4 separate regions of the Homo sapiens genome follow, and all the other regions are linked to region 3. Evidence: fine-mapped expression QTL. A gene starts in region 3. Each other region holds a variant in brackets. All regions are shown on one strand. Distances are between the middles of the regions. Region 1 overlaps ABCC1 (ATP binding cassette subfamily C member 1 (ABCC1 blood group)). Region 2 overlaps ABCC1 (ATP binding cassette subfamily C member 1 (ABCC1 blood group)). Region 3 holds the start of ABCC1 (ATP binding cassette subfamily C member 1 (ABCC1 blood group)). Region 4 overlaps ABCC1 (ATP binding cassette subfamily C member 1 (ABCC1 blood group)).

The links. PIP is the estimated chance that this variant, and not a neighbour inherited with it, causes the effect. A credible set is the group of variants that fine-mapping cannot tell apart.
Region 1: its variant is the best candidate, but not a certain one, in a credible set for the expression of ABCC1 in monocytes after Pam3CSK4 (Quach 2016, PIP 0.64).
Region 2: its variant is the best candidate, but not a certain one, in a credible set for the expression of ABCC1 in whole blood (INTERVAL, PIP 0.73).
Region 4: its variant is the best candidate, but not a certain one, in a credible set for the expression of ABCC1 in sun-exposed skin (GTEx, PIP 0.88).

The regions. Positions count from the first base shown.
Region 1 is chr16:15,968,054-15,975,920 of GRCh38, forward strand. The region is part of intron 1 of ABCC1 (ATP binding cassette subfamily C member 1 (ABCC1 blood group)); the gene reads left to right. Among named protein-coding and RNA genes, the nearest start is that of ABCC1, 22 kb to the left of the region's middle. RefSeq lists enhancers at 2,122-2,761, 2,762-3,400, 3,401-4,040. The variant A/G (reference allele first, on the strand shown) is at 3,491.
Region 2 is chr16:16,089,495-16,097,361 of GRCh38, forward strand. It overlaps ABCC1 (ATP binding cassette subfamily C member 1 (ABCC1 blood group)), which reads left to right. Exons shown (of 31, transcript NM_004996.4): 19 at 911-1,094. It also overlaps the pseudogene RPL17P40. Among named protein-coding and RNA genes, the nearest start is that of ABCC6, 130 kb to the right of the region's middle. The variant C/CTT (reference allele first, on the strand shown) is at 4,485.
Region 3 is chr16:15,945,953-15,953,819 of GRCh38, forward strand. ABCC1 (ATP binding cassette subfamily C member 1 (ABCC1 blood group)) reads left to right here and starts at 3,664. Exons shown (of 31, transcript NM_004996.4): 1 at 3,664-3,847. The coding sequence starts at 3,800. LOC107984869 (a long non-coding RNA gene) reads right to left here and starts at 3,219. Exons shown (of 3, transcript XR_001752339.2): 1 at 2,839-3,219.
Region 4 is chr16:16,056,752-16,063,159 of GRCh38, forward strand. The region is part of intron 12 of ABCC1 (ATP binding cassette subfamily C member 1 (ABCC1 blood group)); the gene reads left to right. Among named protein-coding and RNA genes, the nearest start is that of ABCC1, 110 kb to the left of the region's middle. The variant C/T (reference allele first, on the strand shown) is at 2,581.

The DNA.
Region 1 (7,867 bases), 22 kb after region 3:
ACGGAGTCTTGCTCCATTGCCCAGTCTGGAGTACAGTGATCTCGGCTCACGGCAACCTCCACCTCCCAAGTTCAAGTGATTCTCCTGCCTCAGCCTCCCGAGTAGCTGGGGTTATAGGTGTGTACCATGCACCACCATGCCCGGCTAATTTTTGTATTTTTAGTAGAGACAGGGTTTGCTGTGTTAGCCAGGCTGGTCTCGAATTCCTGACCTCAGGTGATCCGCCTACCTCGGCCTCCCAAAGTCCTGGGATTACCGGGGTGAGCCACCATGGCCAGCCTCTTCTAGAGACAATCTTATTGGCAGGTTGATGTTTTTAATTTTCAGCCTCTCTTCTCCACAGATCCTAAAGATATAGTAATTTTTTTTTTTGAGACAGAGTCTTGCTCTATTACCCAGGCTGGAGTGCAGGTGGCGTGATCTCTGCTCACTGCAGCCTTCACCTGCCGAGTAGCTAGGACTGCAGGCATGCACCACTATGTCTAGCTAATTTTTGTATTTTTAGTAGAGATGGGGTTTTACCATTTTGGCCAGGCTGGTCTCAAACTCATGACCTCAAGTGATCCACCTGCCGCAGCCTCCCAAAGTGCTGGGATTACAGGTCTAAGCCACCGTGCCCAGCCATAAATACATGGTATTTTTTAAGAACAAGAACGGGATTCTACAAAAACATATATATGTGTATTTTGAGACAGGATCTCCTCTGTTGCTCAGGGTGGAGTGCAGGGGCACGATCATGGCCCACTGCAGCCATGACCTCTCAGGCTCAAGCAATCCTCCCACCTTAGCCTCTGGAGTAGCTGGGACCACAGGTGCCCACCACCATGCCCAGCTAATATTTTTTCTTTTTTTTTTTTGTATTGAAAACAGTCAGCCAGGTGTGGTGGCTCACACCTGTAATCTCAGTACGTTGAGAGGCCGAGGTGGGCAGATCACTTGAGGTCAGTAGTTCAAGGCCAGGCTGTCCAACATGGTGAAACTCCATCTCTACTAAAAATACAAAAATTAACTGTGGTGGCGCTTGCCTATAATCCCAGCTACTGGGAAGGGGGAGGCATAAGGATCACTTGAACCTGGGAGGAGGAGGTTGTAGAGAGCCAAGATGATGGCACTGCACTCCAGCCTGGGCAACAGAGCAAGACTCTGTCTCAGAAAAACAAAACAAAACATATAGTCTTTATTTTTTTGTTTGCGTGGGCTGGTGCATCTTGATTATGATGCATTTTTGTTAATTGATATTTAATTGCAGATGAAATGTAACATGGATCTGAGTAATTGCTGATAATTGTTTCCTCTTTAGGCAGCTGGTCAGTCTTTTTTTTTTTTTTTTTTCTTTTTAAGAGAGTTTCTGTCTTGTTGCCCAGACTGGAGTGCAGTAGCGTGATCTCGGCTCACTGCAACCTCCTTTGCCAGGGTTCGAGTGATTCTCCTGCCTCAGCCCCCCGAGTAGCTGGGATTACAGGCATGTGCCACCACGCCCGGCTACTTTTTGTATTTTTAGTAGAGACGGGTTTTGCCATGTTGGCCAGGCTGGTCTCAAACTCCTGACCTCAGGTGATCCCCCCTGCCTCTGCCTCCCAAAGTGCTGAGATTACAGGCTTGAGCCACTGCTCCCAGCCCATAGTCTTTTTTTTTTTTAAACCTCTGTGTACAGGTAGGTCCTGGGGAAATTCGAGGCAAGACTTGGGTGAGTGGGTATCTTAGACCCTCTCAGGAGCTCTTTGCAGGAGGTAGAATCTCCGAGGGTCAGTGCCCATGAATGGGTCCCATGGCCTGACTGGTCCCATTCAGGTGACAGTCTCTGAGGGTCCTGCATAGCCCTTACCTGGGCTCCATGCTGGGAATCGAGCGGTATACAGAGCATGGTTCCCTGCCTTCCTTGAGCCCCAGTCTTGTTGGGGAAATGGCCAAATAAATGAATAATCATCAGGAAGTGCTATGAAGGGGAGCTGCGTGGTGCCCGGTGAGTGCAATAGCGGGGTTTCATCTGGTTGGAGAGAAAAAAGGAGACTCCTTAAGTGGGGAACCCGTTTGATGATACAGGTTTGGCTATGTGTGTCAAAGACCCCAAATATAGTGGGTTAAGATACAAGCTCATTTCTCTCTCATGTAAAAATCCCAGCTGGTGTGGCAGCTCTGTCCCCAAAATAATCAGGGTCCCAGGCCCCTCCCATCTTGTTGCTCTGCTGTCCTCATCTGCATGGATCAAGATGATGCATCTCCATGTCCACATGGCAGCCAGTAGGAAAGCAGAGTAAGGGCACAACCTGGAGGTTGCCTACGTCTCTCCTCGTCACATCCCATTGGCTTGTACCTAGTCATGTGGTGCCTCTAGCTGCAAAGGAGGCTGGGAAATGTAGTTTCCTTTCTAAGCAGGATGTACCCAGCTGAAGATGTTACTCAGGGATGAGGGAGAGTTGATACTGGAGCGCAGCTAGCAGTTTCTGCTGTATAGGCAAAAGCAGAAGGTAAGAATGTTCTGGGCAGTGGGAAATGCATGTGCAGAAGCACTGGCTTAATGAGGAAGGCCACTGTGGCTGGAGTCAAAGAGTAGGGAAGAGAAAAAGAACCAGAAGGAGGCTGAGAATTGGGCCTGTAGGACTTGGATCCTGTGGGAAGCCTTGGCAGCTTTCTTTCCCCCCTCCTTGCTTAGGCATTAGCTCTAAGACAGGGATATTTACAACACAATTATTTCTTTAAAATTATATATATATTTTAATTTGTACAGATGAGGTCTCCCTGTGTTGTCCAGGTTGGTTTCAAACCCCTGAGCTCAAGCCATCTTCTTGCCTCGGCCTCCGAAAGTGTTGGGATTACAGGTGTGAGCCATTATACCTGGCCTTCAACTCAGTCCCTAAAGACAACTCCTTCTCAAGTGTTGGAAAGAACCAATGACTAATCACTTCTAGTCTGCCTTATCCCCATCTTGCTTGTGTGACTTTGGTAAGAGTTTGTTTGTTTATTTAAAGGAGCAGAGAGTTTAATAGGCAAGAAGGGGCAAGAAAGAAGGGAGAATAAGATCCCCTGTATAGAGACGGAGGAGGGCTCCAAAGCTGAGAGAGGGAACCCCAGCTGCCACAGATAGCAGCTAGGTATATGTACAGAGGCTGGAAGAGGCAGTGTCTGATTTGCATAGGCCTCAGGGGATTGGTTTGACTAGGCATGTCTTTCACGTAGCGCATGAAAAAGCTGGCCCTCCCACCTAGCCTTTTAATATGCAAATGCAGGGTACCATGATCTGCACACTTGGGGAGGTGTGGTGGCGGCCATGTTGCTAGGAACATGTGGGGAAAGGGCAAGAAGGCTGTGGGAATCGCCATGTTTGGGTGGACCCAGTTTCTAATGGCTTGCATTTGCATATCAAAGGTTGCTGGCCTGGCTCTAAGAGCCGGGGCTTTACAAGAAACTTTTCCGGAGTTGCTTTAAAAACCAAACATTTCCCAAGGACCCCTTTTCCTCTCTATTTGCCTAAAATAATTGCTTAACTCCT[A/G]CATTACCCCCTGTGGAGATGCCACATTAACTGCTGTTAGGGGGTTTTGGGCGACGACTTCTTCTGGCTACTTCCTGGTGAAAAGGGGCGTTGAATGGGGAACAGCAGCTAGGGCTCCTCCTGGGGTGGATCTAAGGGTCCTCGGAAGAATGGCGTGTCCATGTGTGCTTCAGGTTACAGCACCATTTTGAGTTTGATTGCTTCAGTCTGATGAAATAATTTCCTTTCCTGGCCAACACACCAAAATGATACGGCTCCGATGAGTGGGGGAACACCAGGGTTCTTGGTCCTCATGCCGGTTTAGATAAAATGACACAGACACACGTGGAGTGGTTTTAAGGAGTGGAGAGTTTAATAGGCAAGAAGGAAGGGAGAAGGAAGAAGGTCCCCTGTACAGAGACAGAGGGTGGGGGGCTCCAAAGCTGAGAGACGGAACCTCCAGGAGTTGATTTTATAAATAAAATAACATGCGTTGAGGTCACTCTGTGTTGTGTGGTATGCCCAGCCCTCTCTGCACATAACTTGTTTCAGGCCCACAGTCATGCTGGGTGGTTGCTGTAATGACTTTTTATTTTAAATGGGGAATCTGTGACACAGTTAAACATGCGCAGGATCATGTCACTAGCAAGGAGTGGACACGGTATTCAAACCCAGCAGGTTGACTCAAAGCCTGCCCTTTCCCCAGCTGTTTTGCCCCTCAGTCATTTGAGTCTAGTCTTCAGGATTTTGACATCTATCTCTTACCTTGTATCTGTTAGGATTGCATCTGGCTTCAAGAAACAGCCCTACTTCAGCAGCCTAAGCAGAAAGGTATTCATTTGTTTATTTTTTACATGTCAGGAATTCCAGTACCTCTTGGAGTTGCTGGCATTGGATTAGTGATGCAGGGTTGTTAGGACTGACATCTCTGCTGTTTTCTTGTCTTTTCCTCAAGGCCCCTAAATGGCTGCTACAGCCCTAGGCAATATATCTGGGTTCAAGGTAGGAAGAGGGAGGGATTGCACCAGCCTCATGGGTTCCTTTCTATTCAGGAAAGTCCAAGCCTTCTTCAAAGGCTCTTCTGTCCACATTGCAGACTTCTGGTCATGTCTCCTTGGCTGAAACTGGATTACATGACCACCTCTAGCTGCAAGGGAGGCAGGAAAAATGAGCATTTGGTTTTATGCTTCTCTAGGAGGAAACAGCAAGGGAGAAACTTTTGAGTAAGCCAGCCAATATTGTCCAACATGTACTTATTTTTTAACTTTTTTTTTTTTTTTTTTTTTTTTTGAGGCAAGGTCTGGCTGGCTCTGTTGCCGAGGCTAGAGTGTGGTGGCACAATCTCAGCTCGCTGCAACCTCTACCTCCTAGGCTGAAGCTATCCTCCCACCTTAGCCTCCAGAGTAGCTGGGACTACCACATGCACCACCATACCTGGCTAATTTTTATATTTGTAGAGATGGGGTCTCACCATGTTGCCCAGGCTGCTCTTGAACTTGTGAGTTCAAGTCGTCTGCCCACCTCAGCCTCCCAAAGTGCTGGGATGACAGGCATGAGCCATCACACTCAGCTAATGTTTTTCTTTCAATCAATTCACTTTTTAAGCCTTAACAAAGTTATCGCAAAAGGAAGTTTCATATCACTTTAGAATGTCTTTGAAGTCACAGGTTGGTTATATTTATGTGCTTACTTTAATAGCTATTAAAGTAAATATAGCACTACTAAGAAAAAAAGATATTCTTTAAATCGCCTATTATCAGTGGTTCTTAACTCTGGATGATTTTGTCTCCAGGGGACATTTGGCAATGTCTGGAAACATTTTTGGCTGTCACGATGGGGCAGGGAGCGCACGCCTAGAGTCTAGTGGGTAGAGGCCAGGGGGTGTGCTAAATATCCTACAATACAGGATGGGCTCCATAATGAAAAATCCTCTGGTCCCAAATGTCAGTAGTACTGCAGTTGAGAAACCCTGGCATGGACGCAATCCACCTGCTGCCAGGAGTTATATACAAGCCATGTTAGGGTAATGCTGCAATATGTCCATCGTGATTGTGTTTTCTCCTGGGTGACTATCAGCAATGGTGTAGCCTGCTTGTTGGTTTTCAAGGTCCATTCTCAAGATACTATCAGATCTCCAGCAATCGTGTGATGCAGTTTAAAATGTTCATGTGAGCTGGGCGTGGTGACTCATGCCTATAATCCCAGCACTTTGGGAGGCCAAGGCTGGAGAATGGCTTGAGCCCAGGAGTTTGAAACCAGCCTGGGCAACATAGCGAGACCCAGTCTCTACACAAAATTAAAAAAAAAAAAAAATTAGCCCGGTATGATGGTGCATGGCCATGGTCACAGCTACTCAGGAGGCAGAGGTGGGATGATCACCTGGGCCTGGGAGGTTGAGGCTGCGGTGAGCCACGATTGCACCACCGTATTCCAGCTTGGGTGACAGAGTGAGACCCTGTCTCAAAAAAAAGAATGTGCATATGAATTCAAGATATGTCCCTTATAGAGACTGGTGAGGACACAGCTTATTGACCCTGAAGCTGAAGTGGTTGAAATGATAGCCCTCTTGCCAGGCAAATCCTATGTGAGTGCTTCTAAAAGAACACTGTACCTTGCAGAGAGTATTCCTGGGACCTGGCAGGAATCAGGGCCTCTTGGTGACCACATGCTTTGGAAAGGGCTGTGCTTTGGCAAGTGGGAGATTTTATTATTTATTTTCTCCTGTCTGCCTCGGTTTGGCAAAAACAAACCTGGCCTGGGCATGGGCCTTGTGGAGACAAGAAGGCAGCTTGAGATTATCAGAGATCAGGCTGCTGGTGGGTTTGCCTGAGCTGGCCTGGTCAGGTAGCTTGACAATGATGCTCAGACCCCCATTAAAGTTAATTGAGCGGTTACAGAGTGGGAGTGGGGAGTGGGGGGTGTGGTGACTGCCTGTCTCCTTGAGTTGGCGTGGCTAAGAAGTAAGGGAATTTTTTAACTTTTCCTTCTTAATTCTGGAAACTTAGAAAAAAGCCTCTCACCATCCCTTAATCATTCAGTTAGAGAGACCAGGCTGTTGATATGGACATGCTGCGTTTCATGGAATCCTAGAGGCCAGTATTTATGACATACTTCCCAGTTTCAGAGATGTTAGGATATAAAAATGTAGCCAGCAGTGTTTACAGGATGGGCTAATCGAGAGACACAGACAAATATCAAAGATAGCAAAATAGGAAGAAACAGAGTCTTAGAATCAATGCAGTATAATAATAGCTTCTAGTTTCTTTCTGTTTTTCTTTTTATGATACAGAGTCTCACTCTGTCGCCCAGGCTGGACTGCGGTGGCATGATCTCGGCTCACTGTAGCCTCCGTCTCCTGGGTTCAAGTGATCCTCCCATCTCAGCCTCCAAGTCACTGGGATTACAAGTTGTTTGCCACCATGCCCAGCTAATTTTTGTATTTTTAATAGAGACAGGGTTTCACCATGTTGGCCAGGTTGGTCTTGAATGCCTGACCTCAAGTGATCCCCCCCAGCCTTGGCTTCCCAAAGTACTGGGATGACAGGTGTGAGCCACCATGCCCAGCCTCCCCCTCACTCTTAAGCACAGCTCTTCGGCAGTCAGAGATGTTGCCTGCTGTATTTCTCGTTCTGCTTTTACACATGGTTTAAAAATCCTCGCCCAAGAATGTAAGCCCCATGGCTAGTGCTACCTGCTACCTTTAGGGGTGGCCTCTCCTGGGGTGCAGGAGGTTGCACAGTTCGTTTTGTGACAGCAGGGTCATTTTTTAATCGGATCATCTGCCCCAGTTTGCTTGGCTCTTAGGTGCTTGGGAGTTCTCCTGGTTTTTTGCTGTTGTGAAATGGCCCAGCTTGTACACGTTGTTCCTTTTCTTGCTGGAGTTATTTCCTTTAGACTCCTGTCCCTAAAGTAGGATTGTTGGGTGAAAATGGGGTATGCGTGGTTAGGCTTTTCTCTGCCTGCTTTCTGGATTGCTCTTCAGATAGATTTAATCACCTTTTATTTATGTTTTGTGGTGGTTTTTTTTGTTTTTTTTGTTTTTTTTTGTTTTGAGACTGAGTTTTGGTCTTGTTGCGCAGGCTGGAGTGCAATGGTGGGGTCTCGGCTCACAGCAACCTCTGCCTCCTGGGTTCAAACGATTCTCCTTCCTCAGCTTCCTGAGTAGCTGGGATTACAGGCATGCGCCACCATCTCTGGCTAATTTTGAATTTTTATTACAGACGGGGTTTCTCCATGTTGGTAAAGCTGGTCTGGAACTCCCAACCTCAGGTGATCTGCCCGCCTCAGCCTCCCAAGGTGCTGGGATTACAGGCGTGAGCCGCCACACCTGGCCACCTTTTATTTGTTGAATGAGTGTTTAATAAGCATGTCCTATATGCATCAGGAGAATTAAATGGA
Region 2 (7,867 bases), 140 kb after region 3:
CCGAGGTCGCACCACTGCACTCCAGCCTGGGCGACAGAGCGAGACCCTATCTCAAAAAGAAAAAAAAAAAAGAAGAAAAAAATTAAGCCATTGGGCTGGGCGCAGCGGCTCACACCTGTAATCCTAAAACTTTGGGAGGCCAAGATAGGCAGATTGCCTGAGGTCAGGAGTTTGAGACCAGCCTGGGCAACATGGTGAAACGCCATCTCTACTAAAATACAACAACAAAAAAATCAGCCAGGTGTGGTGGCGGGCGCATGTAATCCCAGCTACGCGGGAGGGAGGCTGAGGCACGGGAATTGCTTGAACCCGGGAGGCGGAGGTTGCAGTGAGCCGAGACTGTGCCACTGCACTCCAGCCTGGACAACAAAGTGAAACTCTGTCTCAAAAAAAAAAAAAAAAGCCATTGCATACAAACTGTTTTGCTGTGGCACCATCCTTTTATTCCTTTACACACTTGTATGGTTCCCTCCCTACCTCTTGTCATTCAGGTTTTTGTTAAAAAATAACCTTCCCCATTACCTTTGTTAAAATTGCAAAACCCGCACACTTGGTACACCCGTTCCCCTTTTTGCTGTGTTTTTGCCATTCAGCAAGCACTATTCTACTAGTGTTCGTTTCTCCTGCGGCCCTGGAATCTGGGGCAGGGGTCTTTGTTTCCTTCCCCTTCCCCAGCTTTTAGCTCAGCACCTGAGGCGTGGCAGGCCCTTTGCACATGCATGTTACAGGACCGTGTGCACAGGTTCAGCTGCTCCTGGATGCTGTTATCGCGGGTGCATGTCCCACCTTCAGACCTGAGTTTTGCCCACCAGGTGTTCGTCGGCTCATTCCTCCTTTAGTCTTCACTCTGCCAAGCTAGGCAGTCTCACACATGTGCACTCACGTGGCCGGGTGTCCCCTTTGCCCACAGACGCGGATCTTGGTCACGCACAGCATGAGCTACTTGCCGCAGGTGGACGTCATCATCGTCATGAGTGGCGGCAAGATCTCTGAGATGGGCTCCTACCAGGAGCTGCTGGCTCGAGACGGCGCCTTCGCTGAGTTCCTGCGTACCTATGCCAGCACAGAGCAGGAGCAGGATGCAGAGGAGAACGGTAGGGGCAGCCCCAGGGTTCCACCCACTCAGGGTGTCTGGCACCTTGAAGGGCCACATTGGCCTCTTTGAGGTTGCCACCAGCCACTTGGGGAAGGCGGCTCCTCAGGGCATGAGGGTGGGAGCTGGATGGAGCCCCCTAAAGAAGCAATGTGGAAAACCACCTTAGTCCCTGCAGCGCTGAACTGGGAGAGAGTCTCGGTGCTTTATGGCCAGGGGATGGGAGCACCAGGCTTCAGCTCAGCTGACCTCAGGGCAGGGTCTAGCGCCTTCCTGGAACATGACCTTGGACCTGATGAGTTTCAGGGTCCTTATGGCAAAAATGGGAATGATGGTAATTAAAGTCCTGGCTCTCGGGGCTGAGAGAAACTGAGGACATACGTGACACAAGAGATGTGAGGGTTGTGAGGTGAAGCACGGAGTTAAGCTGGCAGGCTCGGGTTGGTGACGTCTGGGTTCAATCCCCGGCCGCTCATCTCCCCAGCTATGTGACCTGAGGCCTGCCCTTCAGACCCATCTGAGCTTCACTTTCCTCCCTCATAAAGCAGTTCAGCAGGGCCAGACGTGGTGGTTCCCAGCACTTGTAATCCCAACACATAGAGAGGCTGAGGTGGGAGGATCGCTCCAGCTCAGGAGTTTGAGACCATCCTCAGTAGCATGGCGAAACCTCATCTCTACAAAAAATACAAAAAATTTGCCAGGCACAGTGGCTCACGCCTGTAATCCCAGCACTTTGGGAGGCCGTGGTGGGTGGATCCCTTGAAGCCAGGAGGAATTCAAGACCAGCCTGGCCAACATACTGAAACCCCAACTCTACAAAAAAAAAAAAAAAAAAATTCAGATGCTATTAAGTGCTTTGGAGGGGAAACAAAAAAGACAATGCCATGGGCTGAGGAGTGATGGGTGTCATTGTGGCAACTCAGGCAGGGGATAGGGAAACCCTCTCTGGGGAGGTTGCATTGGCATGGGAAGGAGCCAGCAGGGAGAAGATCTGGGAAGTGTTGTGGGCAGAGGGAACAGCCAGTACAAAGGCCTCAGGACCAGCATGAGCTCAATTTGTTTACAAAACAAAAAGGGTGGTGTGGCCAGACCATGGTGTGCCAGGACGTGGGGGGCAGGAGAAGAGGTCAGCACAGTGATTGTCCTGCAGGGCCTTCCAGGTGGGTTTTGGTCTAACTGCCCTGGGAAGCCACTGAGTGTCAGAGAGGCAAAGTGACCAGCCCCAGGATACACAGCAGCTGCTGGCAGGGTTGGTTCTCAAGTTGGTCTCTGAGTTTCTCATCCTTTGCCTGGGGTGGGAGCTCCTTCTCTGCAGAGGTCCTAGTGATCTCTAATAAGTGCTTTCTTGAGATGTAATTCACACACGTAGGCTGGGCGCAGTGGCTCACGCCTGTAATCCCAGCACTGTGGGAGGCTGACACAGGTGGATCACCTGAGGTCAGGAGTTGGAGACCAGCCTGGCCAACATGATGAAACCCTGTCTCTACTAAAAATACAAAAATTATCCTGGCGTGGTGGCGCACGCCTATAGGCCCAGCTACTGGGGAGGCTGAGGCAGGAGAATAGTTTGAACCTTGGAGGCGGAGGTTGCAGTGAACCGAGATCGTGCCACTACACTCCAGCTTGGGCAACAGAGCAAGACTTCGTCTCAGAAAAACAAAACAAAACAAAACAAAAATTCATACAACATACAATTAACCCACTTAAATCACAAAATCCAACCATCACCACAGTCAGGTTTAGAACTTTTTTTAATCACCCCCAAAAGAAACCCCAATCCATCAGCCATGACTCCCTATTTTCCCCAGCACCTCCGAAGCCCTAGGCAACCACTAATCTTTCTGTCTCTCTAGATTTGCTTATTCTGGACATTTCATATAAATGCCATCACAATAGGTGGAATGTTGTGACTGGCGGCTTTTACACTTAGCGTGGTGTTTTCAAGGTTCGTCTATGTTGTAGCTTCATTTCCTTTTATTGCGGAATAATATGCCATTGTGCAGATAGACCATACTGTGTTGATCTGTTCACTGGTTGATGGACATTCAGGTTTTTTCCACTTTCTGACTCTTGTGAATACTGCTGTCATGAGCCCTGGTGGTTTTAAAGGAAAAGTTGGTGGCCGGGTGTGGTGGTTTGTGCCTGTAATCCCACCACTTTGGGAGGCCAAGGCGGGTGGATCACTTGAGGTTAGGAGTTCAAGACCAGCCTGGGCAGCATGGTGAAACCTCGTCTCTACTGAAAGTACAAACATTAGCTGGGATGGTGGTGCACACCTGTAGTCCCGGCTATTCGGGAGGCTGAGGTGGGGGAATCGCTTGAGCCTGGGAGTCAGGCTGCTGTGAGCCAAAATCATGCCACTGCACTCCATCTGGCCTGGGTGACAGAGCAAGACCATGTCTCAAAATACAGTTGGATTTTTGTTTCTTGCCAGTGCATGATAGCTGACATTCCCTTCAGCTTTTAAATTATTTGATTAGACTGAATTTCTGCATGTTCATTCCCTTGTGGTTGGGAAGTTCTACCTTGAGTCTAGCCTGTTTCTTCTTGCTGCAGAATCCCCCTTTGTCTATCTCTCAGCCCGAGCAATGCATTGTGGCAACTTCTCGGTGACTTTTTCACTGACCTGCTTGGCAGGCTACTTTTAGGTGACAATACCCTTTGTGCTCTCTAAATCAAAATGTGTGGGTTTAGCTGAATCTTTTGCCCAGCGTGAGGTCTGTCTCTCTACCCTTCCGTCCAGGTGAGCAAAAAATGTCCTTAAACTCTCTTGGCCCCAGATAGGTTCCGCACCCCCGCCTTTCTTTCCCAGCTGCTAGAGTATCCAAGCAGTGTATACAGAACATGGAAGGCTGCCAGATGCTTTGTGATTTTTGTACACATCAGCACTTAATTTGGTGATGCAAATGCCGCCCACCACCCTGGCACCTCGTGCGTTCATTTTCCCAGTTTGACCTCCCTACCTCCTGCCTTTGAGGTTACATAGAAGTCCTTGGCAGTGGGTCTTACATCAAACTGGGGCACCCCCCTCTCTCACCACCCACCCTTTTCCATTGCTCTGGAGGGGCCCTGGCTATAAAGTCTTGACATCAGGGTCTGGTCTTGCCCAGCCTTAGCCAACTCGAAGCGCCAATGACCTTGGGTTTGTTTAAACCACATTTTTGGCTCTTCCTAAAGGGGAACTTTTTTCCTTGTTGGATTAATCAGCTCTTTTTTTTAGAACACCCAGGCTGAAGGGGTGCAGGTGTTGGTATTTGGTTTGGGAGAATCCTTGAGGGGGGATGGGCAGGAACCAGGCTTGTGAATGGGGCCATACCGACCTCTCTCCCGGGATATTCAGTTTACTGATTTCTAAGAAATATATCTTTTTTACTGTTTGTCTCCCTCTCTC[C/CTT]TTTTTTTTTTTTTTTTTTTTTTAACTTTTAATGGCATTCCTTTTATTCCTAATTTATTCCCATGCCATAAGCTTTTGTTTCTTCAATTTCTTCTGGGATATATTTTTCTTCTGTGCAGCCTCCCCTTCCGGTTTAGGAACAGTTTGTTCCCTTTCAGGCAGGATCATCTGGATGTGGCAGAGTGAGCTCACGTATGGGTTAATCCGACCGACCCTGAGCTCTGTAGGTCCGGCGACGCAACTTAGGTGCTTTCTTCAGTTGGATATGCTCAAGGACCAGAGAATCTGCATCTGAACCCTTAAGTTCAGTGTGACTCTCTGTATTTTTAAGCATGTGCAGCAGAAATTCAGTGCTCTTTTTGGGCCGCCGACCTTGTGGCCAGCCCCACTTCTTGGCCTGGGTACATCTACCAACTCCACCATTATAATGTCAGAATGGTACATGTTGTTTCTGTAAAGTGGCATCTTTCTGATACTTTGTGGCCTTTTGTACGTGCATACCTTTGATGGCCTGGGCGCTTTCAGGAGTGTTCTTTTTCTTTTTCTTTTTTTTGAGACGGAGTCTTGCTCTGTCGCCCAGGCTGGAGTGCAGTGGCGCGATCTTGGCTCCCTGCAAGCTCTGCCGCCCAGGTTCACGCCATTCTCCTGCCTCAGCCTCCCGAGTAGCTGGGACTACAGGCGCCCGCCACCATGCCCAGCTAATTTTTTTTGTATTTTTAGTAGAAACGGGGTTTCACCGTGTTAGTCAGGATGGTCTCGATCTCTTGACGTCATGATCCGCCCGCCTCGGCCTCCCAAAGTGCTGGGATTACAGGCGTGAGCCACTGCGCCTGGCCTTTTTTTTTTTTTTTTTTTTTTGATACAGAGTCTCACTTGTTGCCCAGGCTGGAGTGTAGTGGCACGATCTTGGCTCACTGCAGCCTCCACCTCCCGGGTTCAAGAAATTCTTGTGCCTCAGCCTCTCGAGTAGCTGGAGTTACAGGCATGTGCCACCACGCCCAGCTAATTTTTGTATTTTTAGTAGAGATGGGGTTTCACCATGCTGACCAGGCTGGTCTCAAACTCCTGGCCTCAAGGGATCCTCCTGCCTCAGCCTCCCAAAGTGTTGGGATAACAGGCATGAGCCACCATGCCCGGCCTCACAAATGTTCTTAAGGTGAACACGAAGATTTGAACCTCTTGATCTGCATGATTCTGTGGTGTTTTCTGGATAAAGTGAATAGTGAACCATTTTCACAGATTGCCTCAAGCCCCTTAGGGGAACAAATTTTTAAGGGATTTAAAAAAATGGCTCATTAACCTTCATACCTGGAAGGTAAAACACATCTTCATGACTCTGGTTTCTTTCTTAGGAACCTAATACCTAGAGCAGTGGTTTTCCATCAGGGGCAAATTGCCCCCACCCTGGGGACAGTTGGCAATGTTTGGAGACATGTTGGGATGTCAAAACTGGAGTGGGGTTTGCCCCTGGCAGGCAAGCAGGGTAGAGGCCAGCGATGTCGCTAAACATCCTACAGCACTCAAGACGAATTCCCCCTTACCCTGCCCCCCGTGACAGGGAATCCCCTTGCCAGGACATCCAAAGCACCACGAGCAAGAAACCCTGTGTGCTCCGACTTCACACTGCTGAATTCTTCCCTTGTCCTCTTGGGAGAAGGATCTTTATTCCAACAATGTGGCCATTTTTCTCTTTTAAAAAATTTTATTTATATATTTTTATGTTTTTTTATGGAGATGGGATATCAGTCTGTTGCCCAGGCTGGTCTCGAACTCCTGGGCTCAAGCGATCCTCCCACCTTGACCTCCCAAAATGCAAATGCTGGGATTATAAGCATGAGTCGCGGCACCTGGCCCGTGGCCATTTTTCAAAACCTTGCTTGAACCATCTGTTAACCTCATGGCAAATATTTTTCCCTCTTAAGTATTTACCGAGTTTTTCTTAATGATTATAAAAGCAACATGTGCTCATCGTAGACATTTGCAAACTACAAAAGAGTACAAAGAATCAGGAAAAAAGGTGGCTCATATGTGTAATGCCAGGACTTTGGGAGGCCAAGGTAGGCGGATCACCTGAGGGCAGGAGTTCGAGACCAGCCTCGCCAACATGGTGAAACCCCATCTCTACTAAAAATACAGAAATGTCAGGAGGCTGAGGCAGGAGAATAGCGTGAATCCGGGGGGCAGAGCTTGCAGTGAGCCAAGATTGTGCCACTGCACTCTAGCCTGGGTAACAGAGCGAGACTGTCTCAAAAAAAAAACAAAAAAACAAAAAAAAACTCCCGAGAAAGAACATCTTTCTGCCCTCACTGCCCAGAAGGGGAGCTGTTGTTAGCTTTGGCATCTTTTTCACCTGTCCTTCCTTCCTAGGCCTTCTCCCTTGACAAGATTGAGAGTATATCTTAGAGTTTTCTCATCTCCTGCCACCTTTTGATTTCTTTTCTTAACAGTGGGCCATAAGCACCTCCCCAAGTTACACAAATTAGTTGTCAGCACAGAGCAGCTGCCGAGAGAGTTCATCAGACAGACCCCCACATTCCTTCTGGCTGTCCTCAGAGGCCGGATTTCTTCCTCTTTTGAGGATGAAGAGCTTTCTCTGCCGAGGCTGGGGGAGGAGGTCAGTGAGGCAGCCAGTGAATGCCGTTTTTGGTCAAAAATGAGGCGTTGACTATAAAGCTGTGAGTTGAATTCTTCCCTCCGGGGAGGCTGGCCTGCTGGACCTTGCCCAAGCAGAGTTCCAGAACCTTCTTGAGTAAAGGCAGTGTTGGTGGAATAAACAGTGAGAGGACTGGCAACGGAATACACAGACCCGGGGCAGCACTTAACGTACGTGGGTCAAGGGTAGAAACAGCACCTGGCTTGACAGCATCCAAAACCCAACACCTGGTGGTTGCATGAACTCAGTGACAGTCACTGAATTACAAGTTTCGTGTGTTTGCTTTAAAAAAAAAAAGAAAGAACTCTTGCTACTTTATAGCATTCTCCACCCTGGCCCCCAGCCTTCATGTCCCTCTTCTTCCCTGCTTTGATTACTTTGTGGCACTTATTGCTGCCTGGAGTAAATTATGGATCTACTTGTTCATTTATTGTTGATCTCTTCCTTTGGAATTTAAGATCTGAGGGTTTTGTTTGTTTGTTTTGTTTTGTTTTGTTTGTTTTGGGAGTCTCACGCTGTTGCCCAGGCTGGAGTGCAATGGTGCAATCTCGGCTCACTGCAACCTCCACCTCCTGGGTCCAAGTGATTCTCCTGCCGCAACCTCCCAAGTAGCTGGGATTACGGATGCCTGCCACCACGCCCGGCTAATTTTTGTATTTTTAGTAGAGACGGCGTTGTGCCACATTGGTCAGGCTGGTCTTGAACTCCGGACCTCAAGTGATCCACCCGC
Region 3 (7,867 bases):
CCCAGGCTGGAGCGCGGTGGCGCGATCTTAGCTCACTGCAACCTGCGCCTCCCAGGTTCAAGCAGTTCTCCTGCCTTAGCCTCCCGAGTAGCTCGGATTACAGGCATGTGCCACCATGCCTGGCTAATTTTTTTGTATTGTTAATAGAGATGGGGTTTCCTCATGTCAGCCAGGCTGGTCTTGAACTCCTGAGCTCAGGCAATCCACCCACCTTGGCCCACCTTTTTGTATTTTTTGTAGAGATGGGGTTTCACCATGTTGCTCAGGCTGGTCTCAATCTCCTGAGCTCAAGAGATCCACCTGCCTCGGCCACCCAAAGTGCTGGGATTACAGGCATGAGCCACTGCACCCAGCCAAATTGTTAGTTTTCCAAAGTAGTTAAGCCAATTTATATACCTCCCAACAGAGCGTGCCTTTTCCAGTTAATCCACGTCTTTGTCTGCACTCGTAATTTTCAGTCTTTGTTTCCAGTCACTCTGGTGGGTGTATGATGGTATTTCACTGGGGTTTTATTTGCATTTCCCTGATGACTAATGAAGTTGAGCATGTTTTCATGTGCTTGCTCAATAAATATTTGTTGAAAGGATGAATAAAGAGTGAATGAATAAAACATGGAAAGAAATCCAACTCTGTCTTGTGCCCTGCCTAAAACCCACCAGTGGTTCCCACTGCCCCTCCTTTGGCCGACGGGTACCTGCCTGCCCTGGCTCCTTCTGACCCCACCTGCTCCGGATGGATTTCTTTTGCTTCTTCTCTGGGTTCCTGCCATCCAGGCTGTCTTCAGTTTCCTCCAAGGACCCTCCCTGCTTCATAACTTTGCTATAAACTGTTTTCTTCTGCCCAGAACACAACCCAGGCCCAAGGAACCCAGACGCGTTCCTTGTATCTCAGTTTGAAAGCCTCTTCCTCCAGGAAGCCTTCTCTGACTTCCACCCCCCAGCAAGGGTGGTATAAATTGCTAACTTAGGCCCACTTTTGCCCACTTTTTTTGTTTGTGTTTTTGAGATGGAGTCACACTTTGTCGTCCAGGCTGGAGTGCAGTGGGGCCATCTCAGCTCACTGCAACCTCCATCTCCTGGGTTCAAGTGATTCTCCTGCCTTAGCTTCCTGAATAGCTGGGATTACAGGCACCCACCACCATGTCCAGCTAATTTTTGTATTTTTACATTTATTTATTTATTTATTTGAGATAGAGTATTGCTTTGTCGCCCAGGCTGGAGTGCAGTGGCATGATCTTGGCTTACTGCAACCTCCGCCTCCCAGGTTCAAGTGATTCTCCTGCCTCAGCCTCCCGAGTAGCTGAGCCTGCAGGTGCCTGCCACCACACCCAGCTAATTTTTGTATTTTTAGTAGAGATGGGGTTTTACCATCGGTCAGACTGGTCTCGAACTCCTGACCTTAAGTGATCTGCCTGCCTTGGCCTCCCAAAGTGCTGGGATTACAGGCGTGAGCCACCATGCCCGGCCACCACTTTTTTTTTCTAGCTGTGACCATAGTTGTACATATCTCCCCTTCCCTGGCTTTTTTTTTTGTTTTTTTTTTCCTGAGACAGGATCTCGCTGTGTTACCCAGGCTGCAGTGCAGCGGTGCAATCATAGCTCACTGTAGCCTTGAACTCCTGGGCCAAATGAGCCTCCCACCTCGGCCTCCCAAAGCACTGAGATTACATGCGTGAGTCACTACTTCTGGCCTGTAAATACCCTTTCAAAAATATAATATTTGATTAACATCTGCCATCTTACCATAAGAAACACTTAAAAAAATCCCAATCCAAAAAAATTCCAATCCTTTAAGCTATATAAGAGTAGCAATTTTATCTTGTTCCTAGCAAGACATCTGGCATATAGTAAATGCTCAATAAATATTTGTTGACAGTATAAAGGTCAAGCAACAGCATAACTGGCATTATTACATGAAAGTAATTATCCCTTAGAAACTCATTCACCCTTGGGGGACCCGGGCCAATAAAAAAATCACAGAAAACAATCCTATCTACCTTCCTCCTTCCTCCTTCCCTCGCTAGGTCCTTTGATTGGGGGGAGGTCTCAAATGCACACACTGTTTCTGTTTTATTTGGTGCAGCTGTTGTGTGCATGTGTTATGGAAACCCACATCAGGCAGGAGATTAAGGAGGAGAGGAGAAAAGAAAGGCATCGCTGGTATCACAGTGAAATTTACACTCTGCGGCCTCGCCCTAGCTCCTCTGTCTCTACCTGTCTGCCTATGAAACAGTTCAAAACTAATATGGCGCAATGGATGGTATTATAGACTTCCCACCTCCCTGGCCAGACTTCTTGGGTTCAAAGTTTGGCTTAATCACTTACCATCTAAATAATCCCTGACAATGTACTCTGTCTTTCTGGGCCTTAGTGGCCTCATCTGCAAAATGGGGATAATACTACTTCTTACCTCATGGGGTTGTGAGGATTGCACAAGTTAATTTGTGTAAATTGCTAAGAACACAGCCTTAGGAAGCCTTGTCACTGTGAATGCATATTAATTTTTTTTATTATTATTTTTTGAGACAGAGTCTTGCTCTGTTGCCCAGGCTGGAGTGCAGTGGTGTGATCTAAGCTCATTTCAACCTCCGCCTCCCAGGTTCAAGTGATTCTCCTGTTTCAGCTTCTCAAGTAGCTGGGACTACAGGTGCCCGCCACCATGCCCGGCTAATTTTTGTGTTTTTAGTAGAGACAGGGTTTTGCTATGTTGGCTAGGCTGGTCTTGAACTCCTGACCTTATGTGATCGGCCCGCCTCGGCTTCCCAAAGTGCTTGATTACAAGCACGAGCCACCATGCCTGGCCTACGATTATCATGTCTCCAGGCTTCAGTTTCCTTACCTCTGAGGTGAGGATCAATAACCTGGTTATTTCTAAGTGATGCTTAAAGAGGTTGAGAAGAAGCAAAGGCGCTCTGCACACAGGTGAGGTCAACAGCTGTTAGTGATGGAGACTGGCGCCGTCTGGGTCATCAGTGCTCCGGAATCAGGCTGCTCACGGGTTTGAATCTCACTTCCACTTTCACTCCTTATTAACTGTGTGACCTCGGGCAAGTCACTTCGCCTTTCTGAACCTCAGTTTCCCCATCTGTAAAAGGTAGGTGAATAACAGTATTCACCTCCTTCTGTGTGACTCAGCTTTGGAGTCAGCGGACCGGGTTCAAATCCCAGCCCTGCAAGTGATTAGCCAGGTGACCCTGGGCAGAGGGAATCACTCAACCTCTCTGCACCTGGGTTTCTTCCTTCATGAACGTGGAGACTTTACAGGATGAAATGAGGGCACAGTTAAGGCGCCCGGTACACTCCAGGCAGGTAGGGGGCTCCGTTCACGTTATTTTCCCCTGGTGACGGATACTGTCCTTAAACAGCATTTGAAAAGTGGTCGCAGGGTGTGTGGCCCCAAAGATCCCAGGCGCTTCCGGAAGGCGAGCCAACGCTCCCCAGGCCCGTCCGCGAGCGGGTGGGCCTAAGCCTTGGAGGATCTGGGGTGGGGGTGGCGCGGGGTCCAGGCCCGGGGCGCCGAGAGGTGGCTGGTCCGGCTGCCCACGCCGAGACGCGCGAGGTGAGCGGGCGCCGGGGCGGGGCGGGGTGGGGCGGGGCCGCCGCATCCCCGTGACGCGCGGGCCAACCAGGCGGCGTTGCGGCCCCGGCCCCGGCTCCCTGCGCCGCCGCCGCCGCCGCCGCCAGCGCTAGCGCCAGCAGCCGGGCCCGATCACCCGCCGCCCGGTGCCCGCCGCCGCCCGCGCCAGCAACCGGGCCCGATCACCCGCCGCCCGGTGCCCGCCGCCGCCCGCGCCACCGGCATGGCGCTCCGGGGCTTCTGCAGCGCCGATGGCTCCGACCCGCTCTGGGTACGTGCCGGGGGCCGCGTGAGGCCGGCGGGACGGAGGGAGGCCGGCGGGGAGGGAAAGCACCGGGCCCGCAGCCGCCCGGGGCACCCCGCTCCCCGCTCTGCTGCCGGCCTCGGGGGCCCGGGACCCTCACGTCGCCCGCGGCCCAGCCCCTTTCGGGGGTGCAAGGCATGGGGGAAACTTGGGTGACTCAGTTCCTGCGGAGCAGAGCGTGGGGGGCCGCGTGCCCAGCCCTGGGGTTTTGGAGGGTCGGGTCGGGTCAGAGCCGCCGTGAGGAGGCCTTCCTGTTTTGGGGTTCCCGTCTGTAAAAACAACCTTCCAGGGAAGGGGACGCTAGAGATGGGGGGCGGGAAGAGGGGTGTCTCTCTGCTTCTGTTTTCCCATCTTTTTTGTGGTTAGGGTCCCCCCTTTTCACGAAAAATACTCCGTGACCAACGGGGTGAGCTGGGGAGGGGCTTAGATTGTAGAAAGGGACTTTCATTGTCTCCCCAAAGTTGTCGTACAAGCCACATTACTCTTCTGTGGTTACCTAGCTTTGTTTTTTTTGTTCTTTCTACTTAGATACTGCGGGGGAAGTTTGGGGGAACCAGGGAAGAAGGGGGATGTCCACCCTTGATGTGCCCTACCTGACCCTCGGCTCGGGGCAGACTTGGGGTGCAGCTGAGGACGCCCAGGACCCTGGTAGCTGTGGTCCTGCCCTCCCTTCCCTGCAACACGTGGAGCTCCTCTCTGGGGATGCCCCTTAGATTTAACCCCGGCAAGTTTTCTTCTGTAACGTGGCCTGCGGAGCCTGACTGGGTGTCTGGAGTCCACTTGCTGTGGTTTAAGCCCCAGTCTTTTGGGCTTCAGCTTCTCCGTAATGCGATTTGCCTCTTTGTTCCAGGAAGGCAGGCACTTCTGTCTCGTGCTGTCTTGATTGTTGGTGAACGCAGTAGGCAAATCTGGACACGACTGTTTCTCTCTCCTCTTTTGTTTAGGAATCAGGAGAAACAGCCTTGGTTCTTAGGAGCTGGTGATCAGCTTCCAAAAATACTTTCTTGTCCTGTTTTGCCGGCCTTTCCTCGAGGGTTGCATTTGGAGTGTTGAAAAGTCATCCTCCAGGGCCCCATTGGAGGGTTTGGTTTTGTTTGTTTGTTTTTTTTAGTAGGGTATCATTGTGTTTAATAACCTACCACACTTTGATATATCTCCCATTTTAAGCCAGTGGGGTTGGAGAGTAACCCCAGGGGTGGAAATAGAACACAGACTTTGCCTTGAGGGTCTGGGGGTGATTGGAGCCTCTTTGCAGATGGACTTTCTTTAGCAGGGGAAAACCTGTGGCTTCCTTGTTGCCAGGTGTAGTAACAGCAAGATTATTTTTTGCAAAGATTCACATGGTGATCTGGGTTTGTGTTGCTGTGAATTCCAGAATATTCTCTTGTTTATTTTCTTCTGAATTGAGGAGGGGGCAAAACAGGGTGAACATCCATGAGGTTTTGTATCAGGACGTATTTTATTGATGGCAATTGGTAGTTGATGGCTAATGAGTATGTTTGGGGTGCGCTTTGTTTATCTTAAGAAACTCATTCACGAAGTCCAGTTGTAATATTTTTTAAAATTTTTATTTTCTTTTTTCTTTTTATTTTTTCCTTCGTTAAGGACTTTCTGCCACAGAAATTGCCAGGTGGTTGGGTTTTGCTTGGGGGTAATTGTAGCTGATCTCTGCCTCTGGTAGGTACCCCATCCCCGTGTTTGACCTTGCGTATTTCTGCTGTCTGGATTCCAAGACTTGTTGGAGGTGCCTTGGAACCAGAATTTGAGAGGAGGCAACTGGGGCCTGAGTGGGAAAATTGAAATATAATTAACTGAAAGCTAGAAAGTAGGTAGTTGTTGCTTTTTTCTTTTCTTTTTTTTTTCTTTTTCTTTTTTGAGACAGAGTCTTGCTCTGTCACCCAGGCTGGAGTGCAGTGGCACGATCTCAGCTTACTGCAATCTCTGCCTCCCCGGCTCAAGTGGTCCTCCTAACTCAGCCTCCCAAGTACCTGGGACTATAGGCGTGTGCCACCACGCCCAGCTAATTTTTGTATTTTTTATAGAGACAGATTCGCACTATATTGCCCAGGCTGGTCTCCTACTCCTGGGCTCAAGCGATCCTCCTGCCTTGGCCTCCAAAAGTGTTGAGATTACAGGCATGGGCCTCTGTGCCCGGCTGTTTTTGTGTTTTTCAAGGTAGCGTGTCCGAGGCCAGGAGCGACTGGCCTCCCAGGCAGTCAGATAACTGTGTGACCTTGAGCAAGCCACTTTCCCTCTGTGTGCCTCACTTTCCTCATCTCTAAAATTGGACAGGAGCCAAAAATGTGGCAGCCTTCTTGGGTTGTTGCGAAGGGTCAATGAGTTAATCTTGTAAGTGGCTCAGCTTGTGCCCTGCACGGAGATAAACAATGGTTAGTATTAAATATTATTTTTTCCAAAGATGAAGTTGTGTGTTTTAAGCTCCTTGTTCTTCCTTTGGATTCCCCTTTTCTTCAGCTGGTGGAGATGGGATTGGGCTGTGAAAAGGCAGTGAGGCACCCGTGCCTGGCTCCTGTTGTGACCAAGGTCATGTGCTTAGAAGTCAAGGTCAGTGGGCCTCGGGTGACTCTGTCAGAGCTTTGTTTCTGGGCTACTGTCTGCCTCTGAGCCGCAGGAAATGTCCAGAAAACCCAGAAGATGGAAATGGCCCATGATAAGTGTTCTGTTGACCTTTACTCAGACAGATGCTCTGGGAAGAGAAAAGGAGAACTTTGCTATCAAAACGGAAAATAGGGCCTGAGGACAGGTCACAGCAGCCCTTGGCTTTCTTTTCTCATGGGGGTGGGACTGGTAGGAGGCGCTGCTTTGTGGTTGATATTGGCATGATGGTTGGAAAAATGGGCCTGGGACTTTTTGTGAGTTCATTAAAAAAAAAAAAAAAAAAAAAAAAAAAAGCAGGCCGGGTGCAGTGGCTCACGCCTGTAATCCCAGCACTTTGGGAGGCTGAGGCAGGCGGATTGCTTGAGGTCAGGAGTTCGAGACCAGCCTAGGCAACATGGATTGACCCCCGTCTCTACTAATAATACCAAAAAAAAAAAAAAAGCCTGGCATGGTGGTGTGGCACCTGTGGTCCCGGCTACTAGGGAGGCTGAGGCACTAGAATCACTTGAAGGCTGTGGGGGTGGAGGTTGCAATGAGCTGAGATCACGGTCACTGCACTCCAGTCTGGGCCACAGACTGAGACCCTGTCTCAAAAAAAAGAGGGCCGGGTGTAGTAGATCATGCCTGTAATCCCAGCACTTTGGGAGGCCAAGGCAGGCGGATCACCTGAGGTCAGGGGTTCAAGACCAGCCTGACCAACATGGCAAAACCCCATCCCTACTAAAAATACAAAAATTAGCTGGGCCTGGTGATTCACGCCTGTAATTCCAGCTACTTGGGAGGCTGAGGCAGGAGAATTGCTTGAACCTGGGAAGAGGTTGCAGTGAGCTGAGATCACATCACTGCACTCCAACCTGGGCGACAGAGAGACTGTCTCAAAAGAAAAAAAAAATTGTGCTTCAGGCCCTGTGTAGAAAAATTGGAAATTATGGAAAAGCAGAGGAAACAACTTGGTATTAAGCAGTATAGTGTGGTGGCTCAGAGCAAATTCGCCTCTGCTGCTGAGGCAGGTTACGTCATCTCTCCGTGCCTCAGTTTCCCTATGTGGGATAACGTAGTACCTAGTGAATAGCGGTGACTTGAGGAATAAGTGAGTTAATCCTTAGCAAGGACTTAAAATGTTGCTGCTTGGCACACAGCGCTCAGTAAAGATCAGTGGTCGTTGCCACCTGGAATTCTCCAGTTAATTTTTGCTGTTGCACCAACTGCCACTGGAGAAGACCAGAAGGAAGCTGCAGGTGTGTGTCACCGTCGATGGAGTGAGCTGGTCCCAGGGTTGATGTGCACCTCTGAGATGCTCTGTGGCATCCACCAACTCAGTAACCCCCTGAATATCTGACTTAGCCGCCAAGGAAGAATATCTTAGAA
Region 4 (6,408 bases), 110 kb after region 3:
TTGTTTTATTCACACTTAGCAGCTTCTAGCCAACCTGTGTAGGAACCGTTCGTTATCTATTTACTGTGATATAAGGAGCTTGTGCCAGAATGTAAACCAGTGCCCCCTGCTTCCTGCATTAAGATAGCCTTGCAAGACAAAAAGTGCGAGCTGAGTCGAACGGCACGCTTGGTGCCATAGTTGATCTACATTGTGGTGCTGCGTCCTTATTTTGTCACCAACTGGTCACAAAGTGTGGATTGTCAGTGTCTCATAGGCCACATGTCAAGTGGCATGGTCTAAACACACTCTAAAATTTACTTATTTTGGGCTGGGTGCGGTGGCTTGTGCCTGTAATCCCAGCCCTTTGGGAGTCCAAGGTGGGTAGATCACTTGAGGCCAGGAGCTCGAGACCAGCCTGGCCAACCTGGTGAAACCCTGTTACTGCTTAAAAAAAAAAAAAAAAAAGAAAGAAAAAAAAAGCTGGGCATGGTGGTGCATGCCTATATTCCCAGCTACTCAGGAGGCCGAGACATGAGAATCCCTTGAACCTGGGAGGCTGAGGTTGCAGTGAGCCGAGATCGAGCCACGGCACTCCAGCCTGGGCAACACAGCAAGACCCTGTCTCAAAAAAGTAAAAAAAAAAAAAAATAAGTAAAATAAAATGTACTTATTTTATTGTCTGCTTTTCCCCCACTAGGATGTCAGCTCCAGATGGGCATTTTTGTCGTTTCTCTTGACTGCTGTATCCTCAGTATATAAAACAGTGCATAGCAGGTGCTGAACAAATATTGTCATCCATTGTAAAAAAAAAAAAATACAGAAAGATATAAAATGAAAAGTATATTGTCCTCTCTTCCATCAGTTCCTCCCTTCTAAAGTGACAGTTTCGTGTACGCTTTTAGAGAAAAATGGACAAGCATATAGGTATTTAAAAATACTTTGACAGATATAAATGGAATCATACTGTACATAGTGTTCTCTTTTCTTTGGTTAACAATATATAGTCTTGGTTCGTTCATTCTGGTCTACTTCATTTTAGTTTTTTGGGGGGTTTTGTTTTGAAATGGGGTCTCGCTCTGTCCCCCAGGCTGGAGTACTGTGGTGCGATCATAGCTCACTGCAGCCTTGAACTCCTGGGCCCAAGCAATCCTCCTGCTTTAGTTTCCTAAGTAGCTGGGACTCCAGGTGCACTGCTACCACTCCCAGCTTGTTTCATTTGTGTTCATGATGGATGCTTGTCTGACGTGCAGATGCGCCCTGCTGGAATTACCCTTTCTCCCATTCCTTGCAAAAACAGGTTGTTCCCTGTTTTTTTTGCTGTTATGATCCATGCTACACTGAAAGTTCTGGTACCTGTCCTGGGGTATGGTAATGGGTCTATCCCTGCCTAGCTGGCTTTGAAAAGTTTAAAGACAACAGTGCAACTTACAATTTGCAAAGTTGGCCGCAAATCAGGAGACCATACAGAGATGGACTTTGGAAATTCCCTTTTTAAGCACAGTTAAAAACAGTTAATGGTGAAGGATGACTTCAGATCATGCCCCATGTTTGTTTTTTCTTTCTGTCTTTTTATTAACTGTGTCATTCTTTTTGTAATGTTGTGCTCATTACAACTATTCCTTCTTGGTCAGGTTGGCAAATTATATGTTTTTCTGGCAAGTTTCTGTGAAGCAGAGTTAAACATGTTTATGAATATGAACTTTTCTGTTAAACTACCATCTGCTTCATCTTTGTTGAGTTTCAGGTGGAATGTCTAAGGAAGCTCCAGCTGTTTCAGCATTTGCGAAAGCGTGTTCATGCTCCCACTGAATTTTCTTAGTCTTGCCTTACTTCTCTCAGGGTCTGGAACTGCAGGAGAGATGGTGTTCAAATTCAAGCCTGCATCAGAATCACCTGGAGAGCTTGTTATTATATTTTATTATTTATTCATTTATTGAGATGAAGTCCCAGTCTGTCACCCAGGTTGGATTGCTATGGCACTATCTTGGCTCACTGCAATCTCTGCCTCCCGGGTTCAAGCGATTCTTCCACCTCAGCCTCTGAGTAGCTGGGATTACAGGCATGCAGCAACCATGCTCAGCTAATTTTTAAAATATCTTTAGTGTAGAGATGGTGTTTCACCATGTTGGCCAGGCTGGTCTCGAACTCCTGACCTCAGGAGATCTACCCGCCTTGGCCTCCGAAAGTGCTGGGATTACAGGCATGAGCCACAGTGCTGGCTGTTAGCTTGTTACTATAAAACTCAGCTTTCTGGGCCCCACCCAAATTTTCAGTTTTAGTAGGTCTGGTTGGGGCCTGAGTATTTGCTTTCCTAACATATCCCTAGGTGCTGCTGCTTCTGGTTCAGGTTGACATGTAGAGACACCGGAGTGGATCCTCACTGCCTAAAGTCTGGTCCGTGGACCAGCAGCCATGGCATCACCTGGTGCTTGTTAACGGTGCAGAATTTCAGGCCTCAGCCCAGATCCACTGAAACGGAATCTGAGTTGTAACTAGTTCTCTAGGTGGTGTGTATGCACATTAAATTTCGAGAGAGACTGGCAGAAAGTAGGAGTAAAGAAACTTTTTCTGTAAATACTTTCGGAATTCCGGGCCATA[C/T]AGTCTCTGTCACAAATACCAGTCTCTTCCAGCGTAGTGCAAAAACAGCCTTAGATAATATGGAAATCGATGGGTGTGGCTGTGTTCCTGTAAAAAAGTATTTAGAGACACCAAAATTTGAATTTTATAGAATTTGCATGTGTCATGTAATATTGTTTTGATTTTTTTAACTTTTAAAAAATATGAAATCTGGCTGGGCGCAGGGGCTCATGCCTGTAATCTCAGCACTTTGGGAGGCCGAGGCGGGCGGGTTGCTTGAGGCTAGCAGATTGAGACCAGCCTAGCCAACGTGGTGAAACCCCGTCTATACTAAAAATACAAAAATTAGCTGGAAGTGGTGGTGCGCACCTGTGGTCATAGCTACTCGGGAGGCTGAGGCAGGAGGATCGCTTCAACCCAGGAGGCAGAAGTTGCAGTGAGCCAAGATCATGCCACACACTCCTGGCTGGGCAACAGAGTGAGACCCTTTCCTGCTGCTGCCCCCCCACCCCCTCCCAGCCCCCCACAAAAAAAAATTAGCCAGGTGTGGTGGAGCATGCTGGTCATCCAAGCTTTTTGGGAGGCTGAGGTACGGGAATCGTTTGAACCCGGGAGGCGGAGATCGCAGCGAGCTGAGGTCACGCCACTGCACTCTAAGCCTGGGCAACAGAACAAGACTCTGTCTCAAAAAAAATAAAAAAAATGAAATCAATGCTGAGCTCATGGGCCGTATGTAAACAGGTGTGGGCCAAATGTGGACCTGAGCCATCCTTGTTGGCCAGCCCCTGGCTTAGAGGACTGGAATGTTCTTCTGAGAATCAGGACACCTGCCACATTCTACTGCCAGCTCACAGTGTGACCCCAAAGCTGGTCATCTCACCTCGCTGGCTCTAGATTTTGTCACATGGAAAATGAAGGGGTTAGATTCCAAGCATGTCAAATACTGGGCCCTGTCCTCCTTCCTCATGCCCACAGCAGACACCCACAGTCACTCATGGGGTTCTTTCCCACTGAGTTATGTTCAAGCAGCCCTCCAGGTGACTGGTGCCAGTGGCCTAGAGTTGAGCAAGAAATGACATCTTGTTGCCCTTCTGTAACTCCATGTTCCCTAAGATCACTTCCAGCTCCAATGCCCCTGCATTCTGCCTTGTACATTGCATTCTTCTTACACTCCAATACCTTGACTTTACCGGGGTGCGTTGATGAACTCTCTCTTTTTTTGTTTTTTTTGGGACTGAGTCTCACTCTGTCACCCAGGCTGAAGTGCAGTGGTGCCATCTCAGCTCACTGCAACCTCCATCTCCCAGTTCAAGCAATTCTCCTGCCTCAGTCCCCCGACTAGCTGGGATTACAAACATGCACTACCATGCCTTGTTAATTTTAATATTTTTAGTAGAGATGGGTTTTTGTCATGTTCGCCAGGCTGGTCTCGAACTCCTGACCTCAAGTGATCTACCTGCCTTGATCTCCCAACGTGCTGGGATTACAAGCGTGAGCCACCGCGCCTGGACTCTCCTTTTTTTTTGAGAAGGAGTCTTGCTCTCTCGCCAGGCTGGAGTGCATTGGCACGATCTCAGCTCACTGCAATCTCTGCCTCTTGGGTTCAAGCGATTCTCCTGCCTCAGCCTCCTGAGTAGCTGGGATTACAGGCGCCTACTACCATGCCCAGCTAAGTTTTGTATTTTTAGTAGAGACGGGGTTTCACCAGGGTTCAAGCAATTCTCCTGCCTCAGCGTCCGAGTAGCTGGGAGTACAGGCGCACGCCACCATGCCAAGCCAATTTTTTGTATTTTTAGTAGAGATGGGGTTTAGCCGTGTTGGCCAGGCTGGTCTCAAACTCCTGGCCTCTAGTGGTCCACCCACCTCGGCCTCCTAAAGTGCTGGGATTACAGGTGTGAGCCGCCATGCCCGGTGGGTCTTACTTTATAAAGTAGGAAGTAATGTATTTGCATATGGTGAAACATAATTAAAGCTGCACCAGATGGTATTCATACAGCCGGACTTCGCACGTGGCCACCTCAGCCTGCTGACATTCGCCAACAGGTCATCCTTTGTCCCTGTGTTGTAGGGCCTGGACTGCACATTGCAGGATGTTTCCCAGCATCTGTGGCCTCTACCTGCCAGATGCTAAGTCGTACCTCTCCCTCTTCTTCCCAGTGGTGACAATAGAAAATGGCTCCAGGCATTGCGAAGTGTCCCCTTGGGGGACAGAATTCTCCCAGTTGAGAACCACAGTCAATAGTGAAAGGCCCAAGCCCTTCCTCCTAACACCAGTCACCTTGCTTCCCTCTCTCCATGTTTCTTGTGTGTTTTTCCAGAGTCCACGTCTGTATCACTGTAATGGTGGATACATGTCATACATGTAGTTATGGTTACTTGATTCTGTTTACTTTACTTTTATACAAGTGATAGTAAGAGTCATACATAAATACATACAAAATGGCTTTTTTTTTCTTTTTTTCTTTTTTTTTTTTTTTTTTTGAGATGGGGTCTCACACTGCCGCCCAAGCTGGAGTGCAGTGACATGATCTTGGCTCACTGCAACCTCTGCCTCCCAGGCTCAAGTAATCCTCCAACCTCAGCCTCCCAGGCAGCTGGGACTACAAGCATGCACCACCATGCCCAGCTAATTTCTGTAATTTTGCAGAGACAGGGTCTCACTTTGTTGCCCAGGATGTTTTCAAACTCCTGAGCTCGAGCAGTCCGCCTGCCTCTGTCTCCCAAAGTGCTGGGATTGTAGGTATGAGCCACTGCACCTGGCCTTGATGGCATTTTGAAAGGTCTTGTCTCAGAGGAAAAGATACAAGCCAGAGGGCGCTGGTGATGAGGTTTGGTCTGTGCCTTGTGTCCCGCTTAGGAGGGGATGGGCAGCGTGTTCTCACAGCTTTTTGCTCTGCACATTGGATTCGTTGGCAAAACCCACAGTTTCCAGGCTGTCACCAAACTTTGCTTATCACTTCCTGCCCTGTTCCCCATTAGGAAACCACAGCAGAAGATGCTTAAGAGCAGGACTGGCTTTTCTTCTCTTTTTTCTTTCTTTCTTTCTTTTTTAAAGAGACAGGGTCTTGTTTTGCTGTCCAGGCTGGAGTACAGTGGCTTGATCACAGCTCACTGCAACCTCCAACTCCTGAGCTAAAGCGATCCTCCTGCTTCAGCCTCTGGAGTAGCTGGGATTACAGATGTGAAATACTGAGCCCGGCTACCGGCTTTACTTAACCTTTTCTTGAGCTTTCTTGCCATTTAGTTTCCCGGAGTTTCCAGAGACAGAGTTTGTTGAGCTGTTTGGCAAGAAACAGATGGGCCTGGGTGTCAGCTGGGGAGACCTTGTCCTGGCCGAGGCATCGAAGCCTCTGACTACATTAGGATAAAATATGTGGCCTTTAGTTCCCCTGGAAGGTGCCTGAGTGTTTTTTCCACTGGTGTGCATTCCTGTGCTTCAAAGACGATGAGGTGTTTACCCAGCGGTAGGTGTGATGGAACACAGAGGCCGGGGAAGGCCAGGGATGCCATCCAGGGACTGATGGGACTGTTTTTCTGGAATGGCAAACCTGGCATTTACCACGTCCACCTAATGCACTTTCCTAAAATAGCATCGCCAGGCAGCCGTCAATATTTAACATTTTCTGTCTTGGATGATTTGTGAGCTTCTTGCCTTCTGTTTACCCTGAATCTCCCTTTGTTAGAATAATTCATCATTCTCTATGGTAATGATCTGTCCTGTAGTTCTCTGCTGATCATATCCTAGGGCCCATGGAGACACTGCCACGACCATGTCATTTTATTTATTTATATATTTATACATTTCTGTATTTTTGAGACGGAGTCTCATTCTGCCGCCCAGGCTGGAGT